Linked DNA regions of Homo sapiens: regions 1 and 2 are each reported to be linked to region 3. Evidence: microRNA targets listed by miRTarBase, many of them from high-throughput screens and not tested one by one. Region 3 holds a microRNA gene; each other region holds the end of a gene's coding sequence.
Evidence for each region. The annotated mature microRNA hsa-miR-548e-3p reads AAAAACUGAGACUACUUUUGCA and lies in region 3 at 1,326-1,347, shown strand. An mRNA with a match to its seed (bases 2 to 7 or 8) in the 3' UTR can be bound and repressed. Matches are read on the target gene's strand: a 7mer-m8 pairs with bases 2 to 8, a 7mer-A1 pairs with bases 2 to 7 and ends in A, and an 8mer does both.

Region 1 (4,366 bases), not on the chromosome of region 3:
TGTTTTTTTATGTCACTATTTTATTTAAAGCAATCTCTTGTTTATAGACTTTAACATTTTTCCTCAAATTTTCTTTTTTGTGTATCTCATTAGTTATAAATATTTTTTAAGTTGATGGTCCAACTGTGTTAAAAAGTAATTGCTCTAGCATAACTGATTTTTTATTGCATCATATAATCCATATTTTCTTTTTCCAATTTTAGGCATGACGATGGTCTGCTGGAAGTCGTTGGAGTATATGGGTCTTTCCACTGTGCTCAGATTCAAGTAAAACTGGCTAATCCTTTTCGAATAGGACAGGCACATACAGTGAGGGTAGGTGAAATATAGCTGTAACAGGCTAATTTGTCCCAATCCAATTCTAAGCTGTTGATATGTAAAATATACATGCTATACTTTTCTTTAAACAGTGGTTTATGGCTCATGCAGCTGGTCACTGTACACTAGCGGCTAGAGTGGGATGAGGAAGAAACAGAAACATGGCTCAAGATCCATGAGATAAAACGTTCACTTGAAAAAAGAATTCCTTAATCAATGAATAAAAACATATTCAGATTAATATTTTCTAAAAATGAAATGCATAAGGGTTAAGGGATTGTGGATGGTATTATTAAGGAAGACCTTTCTAAATTTGGGGGGACTGACTTTTAAACATTATTTGTTCCCTAATATCAGCTGATTTTGAAGTGCTCCATGATGCCAATGCAGGTGGATGGGGAGCCTTGGGCCCAAGGGCCCTGCACTGTCACCATAACTCACAAGACACATGCAATGATGTTATATTTCTCTGGAGAACAAACAGATGATGACATCTCTAGTACTTCGGATCAAGAAGATATAAAGGCGACTGAATAGATGGATGAGGGAGTGAAAACTTTGCATAGAATCCTCACGCAAGTAGATACATGTTCATCCAAAAGTATTAATAGAAATTCTCTATCAGCTATTCAGTCTTAATTTCACTAGTAGTATAATGGGTATACATTTTTGTAAATAGCATCCCCAAACCAGCCAGCCTTCAGTTATTTACAAATGTTTGTTCTTTTTTCAGCAAAATACTTCAAATGAATAGTATTAACTTACAAAAAGTCACAAAAACTTACATGAGAGTGAAAATTTGTTATGACTGTTTTGAGAGTGGGACTCACTCTGAAGTATGTGCTGTCTCATGTCTTATTTTTGAACCATGCATATGATGGACACACAATGGATGGACACATTATATCTCCAACAAGGTGTGGGTGGAAAGATCAAATTAACCTGCTTTTTTGAAAGGAAATGATTACTGTCAAACCAGCATGGTTAATTGTGAGCATCCTCCTGCAGCATGCCCCTTAAGATTTTCTACAACCCAAACCAAGTGTATGTATTGATTTCTAGGAACCCCCAAAAGGAGAATAGTAAAAAAAGATCATACTTAAAATTTGTATTACAATTTTTATTTTAGGAACTTATTCAGACACGTAAATGTTGTTTAATTCTGTAGGTAACCATTTGAGCTGCAATTCAGGATCTTTTTTATAACACCAGTGTAGCCAAAAGAGAAACAGATAAGTGAATTGGTAAGAAATAAGATTCAGAGCACTTGGGATTGTAAGTTATAGGTTCTGAGCTGAACTGTTTATCAGCCGCTCTTTTTATTAAAAGACAGTGTCAACACTTCAAAAAACGTGCTTAAAGGAGACAACGGTGAGATTAATTGCTTAGAAAAAGCTCAAGGCTGACTGATAAGTTTTAAAAATTTGGTGGTCTTGTAGTATTTTGAAATACAGTAGTCTTTTAACAGAATTTCCCCTTAGGGAGGTAAGTGGACAGAAATCTTTGCTAAAATGTTTATATCATATTTATTTTAAAATGAGAGAGATATATTTTTAAATTATTTATTATTTACCTTGTGGTATGGTACCTGTGTTTAGTGTTTACGTTCTGTAGCTTTATTTAATAAGTTAAATTGATCACATAAATTCTGCTAGTCACAATCAGATAGAAATTTAGTCTATTAATTAAAATTCTAATTTAATTCTCCTGACAGAAATCTAGATATTCTTATTCTTCACAAATATTCCTCATTGTATTGAAAAATGAAGGAGGGCATGAAAAGCACTAGGGAACTACTTTTGGATAACTGAAAGCTTTGTTTCATTGTTTTATTTGCCCCTCAATTGCCACAAACTTACTGAAGGGCTAGTTTCATGGTTCCCATTAGAGGGTGCTTGTTCGCTGCTGTTGACCAGCCCAAGGGTCGTGACCCACAGGTCGGCTGACCCAGAGGGCATCCAGCCTGGTGTTTTTCTGACACATGGCCCAGGCTTTGTGGTCTTTCATGACATTAATCTCTGAAAGATCAGAATGTATCCCCCAAAATACCATTAGCTATCTTTGAGGGTCTATTATGAATCTGTCATCCATGAATTGCCATAAACCTAAGTTTGCCTCACCTCAGGCCCAGACCATGTTTTCAAAGAGCAACTTAGTAATGTATACAGTAGTCAGTACATTTTATGAAATACTCTATTTTGCTAAATTAACCTCTTGCAGATCTCCTCAGGTGATCTTAAATTCTAGTCTTGAGAAACTTTGTGAGCAGATCTGTTTTCAGCTTCTTTATATACCTTTCATGGTAAGTAACCATGGCAGTGAGGATGGCAGAGTTTTGTTTTTTTTTTTTTTAATGGGCCAATCATGTTCTGAGTATTATGAAGTTTATCCTTTCATTCATGATCAAAATTGTTAAAGACATCACATTTTATAAATACACTGTTAAATCCACTTTGCTGTAGGTTATAGTTTACCTGTTATATAATTCGTAGTGCTAATTGTAGTAGAAGCAAATCAATTTAGGATGTTGGAACGAAAATAATCACAATAACTAATACAGCTTTTTAATTGTGAAAACTACAATTAAAAATTATAATTTTAATACCAACCATAATATTACACTGTATTTAGAACAGGCTTATGTAAAATGCCCTCATTTATCTAAATAAGTTGATTTTTTGGTTATTGTAATCTAGTAAGGTTTTTGCATCACTACTGGTCTGTCATGAAGTTTTTCTGCTGGCTTATTCACTTATTTAGACTTCATTTAGGGAAGCTATTTCAGAATACCATCTCATAAAATGTATCATTATCTTGTTTTTGCAAAATTCACTTACTTTTTGGGCACATTTACCCAGCATTTCAAATAAGTGTATAGGCATGTGCCTTGTTTAAGTACAATTTATAAGACTTCATGTTTGCAAGTTACATATTAGGGTAGTGATTGTTTATATTACCAGGGATTCTACACTTTACCAAAAAAAATTGCCATAAGATTTTCCTGTTCCATTTTAAATTGTCTTGATATTTAAAAAAATAACTTCTACATTCTCAGGAAGAAATACATGAAGTAAATCATATCTCCATGTCTGTTTCCAGATTTCTCTAATCTTTTTACTATCCCAATACATTCCTAATTCCTATAAACGTAGTGGCTTAAATACTGAATACCTGGCAGCTCTTAAAGATCCCTTAGGCAGATGATGATAATTTTCAGTGTTTCGTCATGTTTAATAGAAATCAAACTGACTTGTGTTTTAAAATACAAGTTGTCTGCTAGTAAAGTTACATGATTTAGGTGTGTTTTAGGTTTTCTGCAACAATTAGCTGTGAACCCCTAATGTAGCTAAGTTTATACAAATTTTATAATCAAAATTATTTATTTTTATTTTTTTAGAGTATGTCAAAAACATATAGTGTTTGCTTTGTGAAATACATTTGCTTAGAGTTATAAAATATACTGTGACTCAGAAATTGTAAAGTCAGTTTGCGTTGTAAAAATGAATACTACCAGCATGTCAAAAGAAAAATAATTTACATTTGTAATATAAAGTAAAATTGTATTTAATATATTTATTGAATTTTAAATTTGCACTAACTTGAAAACTTTAAAGGTTATACTAATTTAATGATTAATGTGGACCCAAATACATAATTTGGCCAAAAAAGTCATTAGAATGGGTAATGGTTTTGTGTGGTTTTCCTTCAAAATGATAATATTGAAGCAAGAACCAGCATTTTATATTGATAATTTTTTTAATATTTCTACCCAGTTGAGGACAGTGGAATATAAGTAGATATATTTAAAATATCTAGATATTTAAAAAGAAAGAAAAGGTTGTTTATCCCAATCTGAATTCATTCTCAGCAACAAGACAGAAAAGGTGGTTTGGGTTTTGCTTTTAAACAGTGTCCCCCTGTCTTTTTCAATTTTTCCCTTGAAGCCTTTCTCTTGTTCTTCAGAGTACGCGCTGCAGGCTATCTGCAGCATCAGAATGCCTGGGCAGGCTGTTGAAAGTATGGATTCCTGAGCCCAACCCTTAACTTA
Region 2 (4,366 bases), not on the chromosome of region 3:
TGCTGGCTACTTCTGGCACTTATAGCCCTTGAGATAGTACCGCCAGCAGCTCCCTGTGAAGTGCTAACACCCCTTCAAAGCAGCACCAACCCAATTGTGAACAAGCTAGGAGTAAAAGACGTAAATGAATTGGTCACCCCAATGCAGGGGATACAGACTTGTTTTAATATAAAAAAGAAGTGGCCTTAACCGTGCAGGGCTTGCAGGCCTTTGTAGGCATGGGAGCATGCTGTGATCCCTGGTTCTGTGCTAAACACTCAAAAGGGCTCTCTGACTCAAGTGGAGGTGATAAACCTTTTCAATAGTAACAGGAGAGAGTGTGATATCAAAGTGCCAGAAGTCCTCACGGACCAACATTTAGCACAGACATTCAAACTGCTGAAAGAACCAAACAGAACTCAACTGAAAAAAACAGACCTTTTAAGAAAAGCAATAGATCTTAATTTGGTGGCAAGATCCCTGGTTTACCTTTTGAAGTCAAAATGTTCAATACATCACCCGAGCTTGACTTTTGAGCACTTGGCAAGATTGTTTTTTGCCACTTGACACAAGTATGATGTCCAGCTATGCAAAATGACTGTTTGATCTGCCTTTTCAGTGTATTTGTGTGGCGATGTCTGTAAAATGCCAGAAGCCTCTTATGTTATTGCTGCTGCTGCTACCAGCCAGCAACTGCAGAGGCCATGCTGAGGTGCCTCCTTGCCACCAGCCGTTGGGAAATGCCTACCATGCTGCCCCGGATGCACAAGCTCAAAACGCTGCAGAAGTTACACAACTGCTCCCATAATCTGGACTCTCCAAAACCGTGATGCCACGAAGGAAGGTCAAGTTTTAAAATGTTAAAGACTGCTTGCCTCTGTTCCTGAGACTAAACAGTATACATACTAACTACATTGACAAAGAAATCCTATCTGATAATGTAGCCCGCTGACGAATTTTGAAGCCTCGGTTACCCTAACCAATATGTAGCTTTTAATTTGCATCAAAACTTTTACAAAGATGTTTTGCTATTGTTTCTATATACTTCAAGAATGTTCATTTTTACAAATAAGTTGAACAAGACAGCCTAAGTTAGATGCACCGAAGTACTAGAAATATCGCTAGCCTCTGTTCTCCAGTTTAGCTTTCAAAACCAAATGAGCCATGTATAAAGGAGTTGAGAAACTTAATTTTTAAATGTTTCATTTGCAGAGTTTTATATCCATTAAGTGCCTTTGAAAGTTTCCAGTTGTGTGGGCTGCTGTCTCACCTCCCACCAATTTCTCCTTTCTCCATATGGTGCTAAAACCTCAAAGCTGAGGAGGGCTGCAGGACCCTTAGCAGATTCAGTGTGTCACCCTTGTCCTGTGTTCACGCCAAGGCTTCCTAAATGAAAGACATCGGTTACCTGCTTATGGGAAGGTGAGCAGCAAAGGAATTGAAGTTCGGGACAGGGTAGAATTATGGGTTTTCATTGTGTTTCATGCCAAACCCACAAAATCCAAAATAGAATTCAAGTTAAACAAACTTCTACTACAAAATGGAAGGGGAAAAAGGCTCAGGAAGGTCTATGAGAATGAGCTGACTTATCTCGTTAAATCTTAAGATAAATGAGGGTAACCCAAGGCTGCACCTTGGTGTACCACCCTGAGTGGAGTTGAGGTGACTTCATTTGATTGCTTCAGGCGAACTATATAGGTCAAGTCCAGATTATAAAAAAATTATCTGCAGAACAAATTGTAAACCCAAGGAATAGCTGGTAAATCAAAATTATAAAGTGAGTTAGAGTTCCTTGGAGTTGGTTGTATGACGGAATATGACTTGGACAATCTTTACCAGAAGCCATCCGTAAGCCCCTCAGTCACACTTTCCATGTAGCTGACCAGTGACTACAGGATGTGGCTGACAGTGCTCACTGAAAGGAGAGTTGGTGCGGGACTGGTGGTTCTGAGCACATAGACGCCTATTAGTCCTTCTGGTCAGTGAACGAAAATTCTAGACCTACAGTTACTGGCTACTTGCATTTGTCAGTTTAGAGAAAAGGTAAAATGAGGCATTTTCAATTGTAGAATAGACTAACATTTACCACAGAAGTGCTTCAGCATTCTAAATGGATTAGATCACTCATTAAGCTATTTTTATATGCCAATTTACTAATGCCTTACATCAATCCACTAATAGGTTGTTGGGCCCGCAGTAGAGTCCCTATGCAGTCCCAATTCTGTTTTCTGTAACCATGTGACTGGTGATGCAGAGTGATAACCATGTCTGCCTATCTTGTACTAGACTCTTCATGCTGATCGGATCTTGCATTGAAATAACCATGTGGAAGAACAATGAATCGATTAATGATGACATGTACAACCATATTTAAAGAGCAATAGTGTCCGTGTGTCATGAAAAACTTATTTGTAAACGTTTATATGGTATGATTTTGATTTTATGTATGTTCATAAATCCTGCACTGTATGATATATGTGAGTTAAAACATTGGTGCATGAATTTATTTTCAAAGTATAAAACACATCACTTAAACATTTTATGTGTCAAATAAAATTTGATTATGTAAACACATTTGTTGACTTTTGTTTCCACAGTAAACAAACAAACAGCTGCACCATCAGCTGAAAAAAACCCTTCTAAAAGCACAAGCTACCATTCGCTGGTTGAAGCAGTTTACCCACTGTGTGCATTTTTAATCTGCTGCAATTTCATGAAATGAAAATACCAAAGCATATTTTAAGTCTATAAGCTTTATTGATACTTTGCTTTTACAGTTCACAATGCATTCCACAGATTTAGTTCAGTACAGCTTAAACCACAATGGTATAAATCTTCATTTTGTAATTAATAATTTCTTGCATAACAATGTTTGATATTTGCAAACAAACAACATTTTTGGAAGCATTAGATTCAGTCCATAGATTCTGTGACAAAATTAACTACAGTCAGTCTGTGCAATGAAATTGATGTTGGAGTTCTATGTGTGTGGCATTTCATGTTGAAAACAGATGGTAGTGCTCCTAGAAATATTTCTTCTTCTAGCTTATGTGCTTTGGAACTACACATGTATAACCAATGACTGACTCTGAAATATCAAGCACTGTGGGGTGGCTGGAAGGTAAAGGTCTAAGCTTTGTGAAACACTATACATATATAATCTATATTTACTTATATTGGCAATTAATATAACAGTAAAAGTCACAATACACCTAGAACATACCAGAAAAGCAAGCTTTGTCATTCCTGCTTTACCGGTATGATCTCGTCTAAACAAACATTTCATTTCAGAAAATCTGCATCAATCTACACGGACCATACACAGTGCACAAACTGAAAAGGGCTTTTTTTTTTTTTTTTCTAGCTCCACCATCTCTGCAACTTGCCAAGATGCGGCAAGACTATCTGCAACAAAGTAAAATATACAGGTTTTTTATTCCACCAGTGCCTCAGATAGATAGGAAAAAGATATGATTACGGTTTAAATCCATACATAGCAGCTTACAATACTTAAGATGATGAACACATGGCAGTCAAGACAGGTAATTTTTCCTCACAACAGTGCATGGCTAAAAATAAAGATCTAACAACGATCTGTGAAACTGCACTGCAACGTCAAGGTTCGTTCTTCCCTGACCCTCCCCCGTATAATCAAATGAATATCCCCTTTAAAGATGAACTCCTACTAATTATTTTGGGCGTTTTCATTCAGCTTTGCGCTTCAATCCAGGGATTTTTGCTTGGATTCTGAAAATGAAAAAGTCAATGTAAATATCAGTTTTGTTTGCTGCTGCTTAAAATACCATCTTCCAAGAACTACTTGTATGTTATTCAGCTAATACAATAAATGAAATCCTTAAAGCTGCCTAATTCTAAGCTATAATTTTGCCACCTTGGCCTCATGAATTAGATTTAAACAAAGCCTTAAACACATAATAAACCCAGAAACGAATGGTCCAAATGTTAGAAAAACAATCTTTTGGCAACTCTGAAGTCACACTTAAGGTCTGATAGAGATTTGTTACTCATTATGCCTGCAATATGAAAATACTGTTCTCACAATCCAGCACACCTTATCCTAGTAAAAACACTGCAGATTTTAAATACTTACTTAGCCATAGCATCTTTAACATTCTTATTTGCAAGTCCTAGATAATGATCTATCTGTGCCTGAAAGAGAGGTATAAAGGAATTATTACCGTTGCTAAAGAATCTTATTAACCACTACTATGTGTCAAGCTAAAGGCTTAAGAAACCATCACACTTCTCATTTTTGTAAGACATTGAAAATGGGCACTAATACATCCGTAAATCCCATGTAATAGAGTGAGTGCTCTATTCTGAAGTCAGCAGTTAGTTAGGAAATTACCTGATGCCGTTCATAAAT
Region 3 (4,000 bases):
GCACAATTATTTCATGCTTTTTTTTCTCTTTAAAATCTATTGAAATGGCCAAGATGAACAAGGAGATGTGACCTTAGGAGAAAAAAAACATAGGATATTTAAACTGCATGTTTAAAACATGATGAGGCTGATACAAAAAGGGAACAAAGAATAAAATACAATTCTTAGAGATATGTTTGCCAAATCAAATTTAATGGAAAATTCCATATAACCAAATGAACACAGCCAGAGACCAAAGTGATGATCTCTAGGATAAATTAAAAGTCCCCTAGAATCTAGATCAAAAAGAAATGTATACAAAAGAAGTGAAAAGTTAAAAAGTCATGGCAGATAGGACTAGACGTTCCAGAAGGCCAAATAGTGGTGATAGTTATAAAATATAATTTTATAATGTTTCCCTGAACTTGATAAAAACCCGGATAATAAGACCAAAATTGCTTACCAAGAAGAAATAAATTAAAAAGTTACATTCTGGTGGTAGTTTTAAATATTAGATGTATTTGTTTTGAATAAATAATAAATTCACATGTAATGTTATACAACCTATCTTTACCTGGTTTTTGGTTTCAGGGTAATGCTGGCTACGTATGTTCAATTTTTGGAATAGTTTGTATGAAATTGCATTATTTCTTCCTTTAATATTTGATAAAATTCACCAGTGAAGCCATCCAGGACAGGACTTTTCTTTATGGGAATTTGTTTTAAAGCAATTTCAATTACTTTAATAAATATAGGGCTATTCAGGTTATCACTTTCTTCTTCAGCAAACTTGGTCATATGGGTCTTTCAAGGAATATATTTGTTTTATTTCAATTATCACATTTAAAAGCATTAAGTTGTTCATAACATTCTTATTATTTTAATATCTGTAGAATCTATAGTAATGCCACCTCTCTAATTCCTGATATCAAGAATTTGTATGTTTTCTCTTTTTCTTAATCATTCTGGTTAGAAGTATATCAATTGTGTTGATCCTCTCTTAGTTTTATTGATTTTCCCTATTGTTTCTCTGGTTTTTATTTCATTGATTTCCATTTTGAACTTTATTTCACCAGCTTACTTTGAGTTTTATTTGTTCTTTTTCTAGTTTCTTATGGTGGCAGCTTGAGGTCATTAATTTGAGACCTTTCTATTATTCTCATAAAGACAGTTAGCACTGTAAATTTCCCCTTAAGTACTGCTTCAGCAGCATCCCACAAATTCTGATATGTTGTATTTTCCTTTTAAAAGTTTTTTCTAATTTACCCTTTTGTTTCTTCTGTGATCTATGGCTTTATTAGGTTGGTACAAAAGCAATCGCGGTTTTTGCTATTACTTTTAAAGGCAAAAACTGAGACTACTTTTGCACCAACCTGATAGAAGAATGTTATTTTGTTCCCAAAAGCTTGACAATTTTCCATGATATATTATTGACTTCTAATTTACCTCCATTGTGGTCAAGAACATTCCTGATAGGACTTGAATTCTTTCATCATGGTAAAAGTATTCCATGTGCAGTTTAATGTGTATTCTACTTTTGTTGGGTGGAGTGATCCATAAATATGAATCATGGTACAGATGAGGCAATCAATGAGTTTATTCTACTTTCTGCCGTTTCTGGAGGAGTCTCTTTTTCTTCTTATTTTTGTTAACTGCATTGTCAGCATAGGTAACATACCTTGTTGTACTAATTCCCATTTTTGTTTTAGTCTTAATGTTTATCAGCAGTCCTGTTGCCATAGTTGCCTCAGTCATTTCTTGGTTGGCTGAAGTCAATCTGGTTGGTAGTCATTTGCTCAAAAATGGTTCATGGGAGCAGTATTCTCCTATAGTTCTTGCATGTGTGTAGCTTTTATAATTTAAGAACAATTTAGATAGATACAAAATAATTGGATCAAACTGCCTTTCCTTGAGGATCTCAGTAGAACTTGTTAACAGGTAGTTCTACCTTCTTCTGGAATTGAATGTACAAAAATAAGAGGCCAGTCCATTTTCTTTTTTCCCCATGATAAGTGACTTAGTCATTTTGCTTGGCCAGCCAAAGTATTATTTCTAGATTTCTGAAATTTTAAGAACTATATTTTATTTATCAGTGTTTATTTTTCAGGATCATATTTTCCTAGTATACTCTGGGCCAATTCAACATATAGGTTTAAGTTTTATTTCAGTACAGTGTTCTTCAGTATATTCAGTATATATTCAGGGTATATATGCTTTCTGTTTGCCATATATATTCAGTGTATATTCAGTATAGTGTTCAGTATAGTAAATATGTCACACAGTGACATATTTAGTTTGTGTTGTATGTTTTTACATTAAAATATGTATCTGTAAGTTTGGTTAGTATGAACAACAAACTAATTGGAATGGTAAAGAAGAAAAGAAAGAATAATGCATAATCTCATCATAATCACTTTCAGTGGAATGTCACATAAAAGCACTTTCAAAAAATGACTTTATAAGATCCAAATTCTTAGTCTTAGAAAAACAAAATGTTCAAGGGCTGAGGAAGGCGAGCGCATGGCGCGGGACTGGCAGGCAGCTCCACCTGCAGCCCTGGTGCGGGATCCACTAGGTGAAGCCAGCTGGGCTCCTGAGTCTGGTGGGGACGTGGAGAGTCTTTATGTCTAGCTCAGGGATTGTAAATACACCAATCAGCACCCTGTGTTTAGCTCAAGGTTTGTGAGTGCACCAATGGACACTCTGTATCTAGGTGCTCTGGTGGGGACGTGGAGAACCTTTATGTCTAGCTCAGGGATTGTAAATACACCAATCAGCACCCTGTGTTTAGCTCAAGGTTTGTGAGTGCACCAATCAACACTCTGTATCTAGCTGCTCTGGTGGGGCCTTGGAGAACCTGTGTGTCGAAACTCTGTATCTAACTAATCTGATGGGGACGTGGAGAACCTTTGTATCTAGCTCAGGGATTGTAAACGCACCAATCAGCGCCCTGACAAAACAGGCCACTCGGCTCTACCAATCAGCAGGACGTGGGTGGGGCCAGATAAGAGAATAAAAGCAGGCTGCCGGAGCCAGCATTGGCAACCCACTCGGGTCCCCTTCCACACTGTGGAAGCTTTGTTCTTTCGCTCTTTGCAATAAATCTTGCTACTGCTCAAAAAAAACAAAAACAAAAAACAAAAAAAAACACAACAAAATGTTGCTTTACTCTACTGCAAATCAGACAGGAGAACCAAAATTTAAGATACTTGAAATGTTATCAAGTGATTTTCTTATCCCTCTCATTGATGTTTAGTCACTATGTATATCTTAGGATATTAAACATGCTAGACATTTTATTGTTTCTTGAACATATCAGGTAAATTCTAGCCTTGAGATCTTTGTGCTTCCCATCTCTCTGTTTAGAACTCTTTTCTCCTAAATATCTGTGTAACTTTGCCTGCTCCTTCAACTGATCAGATAGATATATATAGCATGATTTTCATTCGGCCTTCTTCTCTGTCTCAAATAGTCTAACAATATTTTATTATTTAATATTTTTATATATGTGTCTGTATCTCAAACTTGTTAAATAACAGTCAAAGGGGCATGCGATTAAAGTACTGAAATGAATAATCCTGGTAAACAGAGAAAGCATAGGTGGTGATATATGATACAGTCTTCTAGTAAGTAGGATTAGTGTCCTATTGGAGGTAATTCTTCTGTGTTTTAAGTGTGTTTACTAATATGAAAACATTTGATTTTATTATTAATCTCTTGTAGTTTAGATGTTATCCTAGAATAACACATATGCCTCACCTCTAGCTTATTCTATAGGGCCAGATTACAGTATTACAAATTGGAAATCAATGAGAACTGAAACATTAACAACAAGAAAATTTTAAATAACATTGCATTTACTTTTATATGCTTTGATGGTTGTCACCAAGTATAGTACAGCTGTTACTCTGAGTAAATGGCAAAGTAAATTAGTAATATTTATTGAAACTTTTTATGATATTGTAGTCATTTATCGATTACCATGTTTATTAAAATAATTACTTTATCTTTCTCCATCCTT

Region 1: miRTarBase lists DGKE as a target of hsa-miR-548e-3p. Seed matches in the 3' UTR shown: 7mer-A1 at 1,731-1,737.
Region 2: miRTarBase lists EML6 as a target of hsa-miR-548e-3p. Seed matches in the 3' UTR shown: 7mer-A1 at 828-834 and 7mer-A1 at 1,192-1,198.

Annotation. Positions count from the first base shown.
Region 1 is chr17:56,861,937-56,866,302 of GRCh38, forward strand. DGKE (diacylglycerol kinase epsilon) reads left to right here. Exons shown (of 12, transcript NM_003647.3): 11 at 204-315; 12 at 676-4,366. The coding sequence ends at 855. All of the region lies in intron 1 of LOC124904037 (a long non-coding RNA gene), which reads right to left. Among named protein-coding and RNA genes, the nearest start is that of MIR3614, 27 kb to the right of the region's middle.
Region 2 is chr2:54,969,473-54,973,838 of GRCh38, forward strand. It overlaps EML6 (EMAP like 6), which reads left to right. Exons shown (of 42, transcript NM_001039753.4): 42 at 599-2,553. The coding sequence ends at 623. It overlaps RTN4 (reticulon 4), which reads right to left. Exons shown (of 9, transcript NM_020532.5): 7 at 4,349-4,366; 8 at 4,091-4,149; 9 at 2,717-3,726. The coding sequence ends at 3,684. Among named protein-coding and RNA genes, the nearest start is that of RTN4, 79 kb to the right of the region's middle.
Region 3 is chr10:110,987,653-110,991,652 of GRCh38, forward strand. It overlaps MIR548E (microRNA 548e), which reads left to right and starts at 1,274; the gene lies at 1,274-1,361. All of the region lies in intron 3 of SHOC2 (SHOC2 leucine rich repeat scaffold protein), which reads left to right.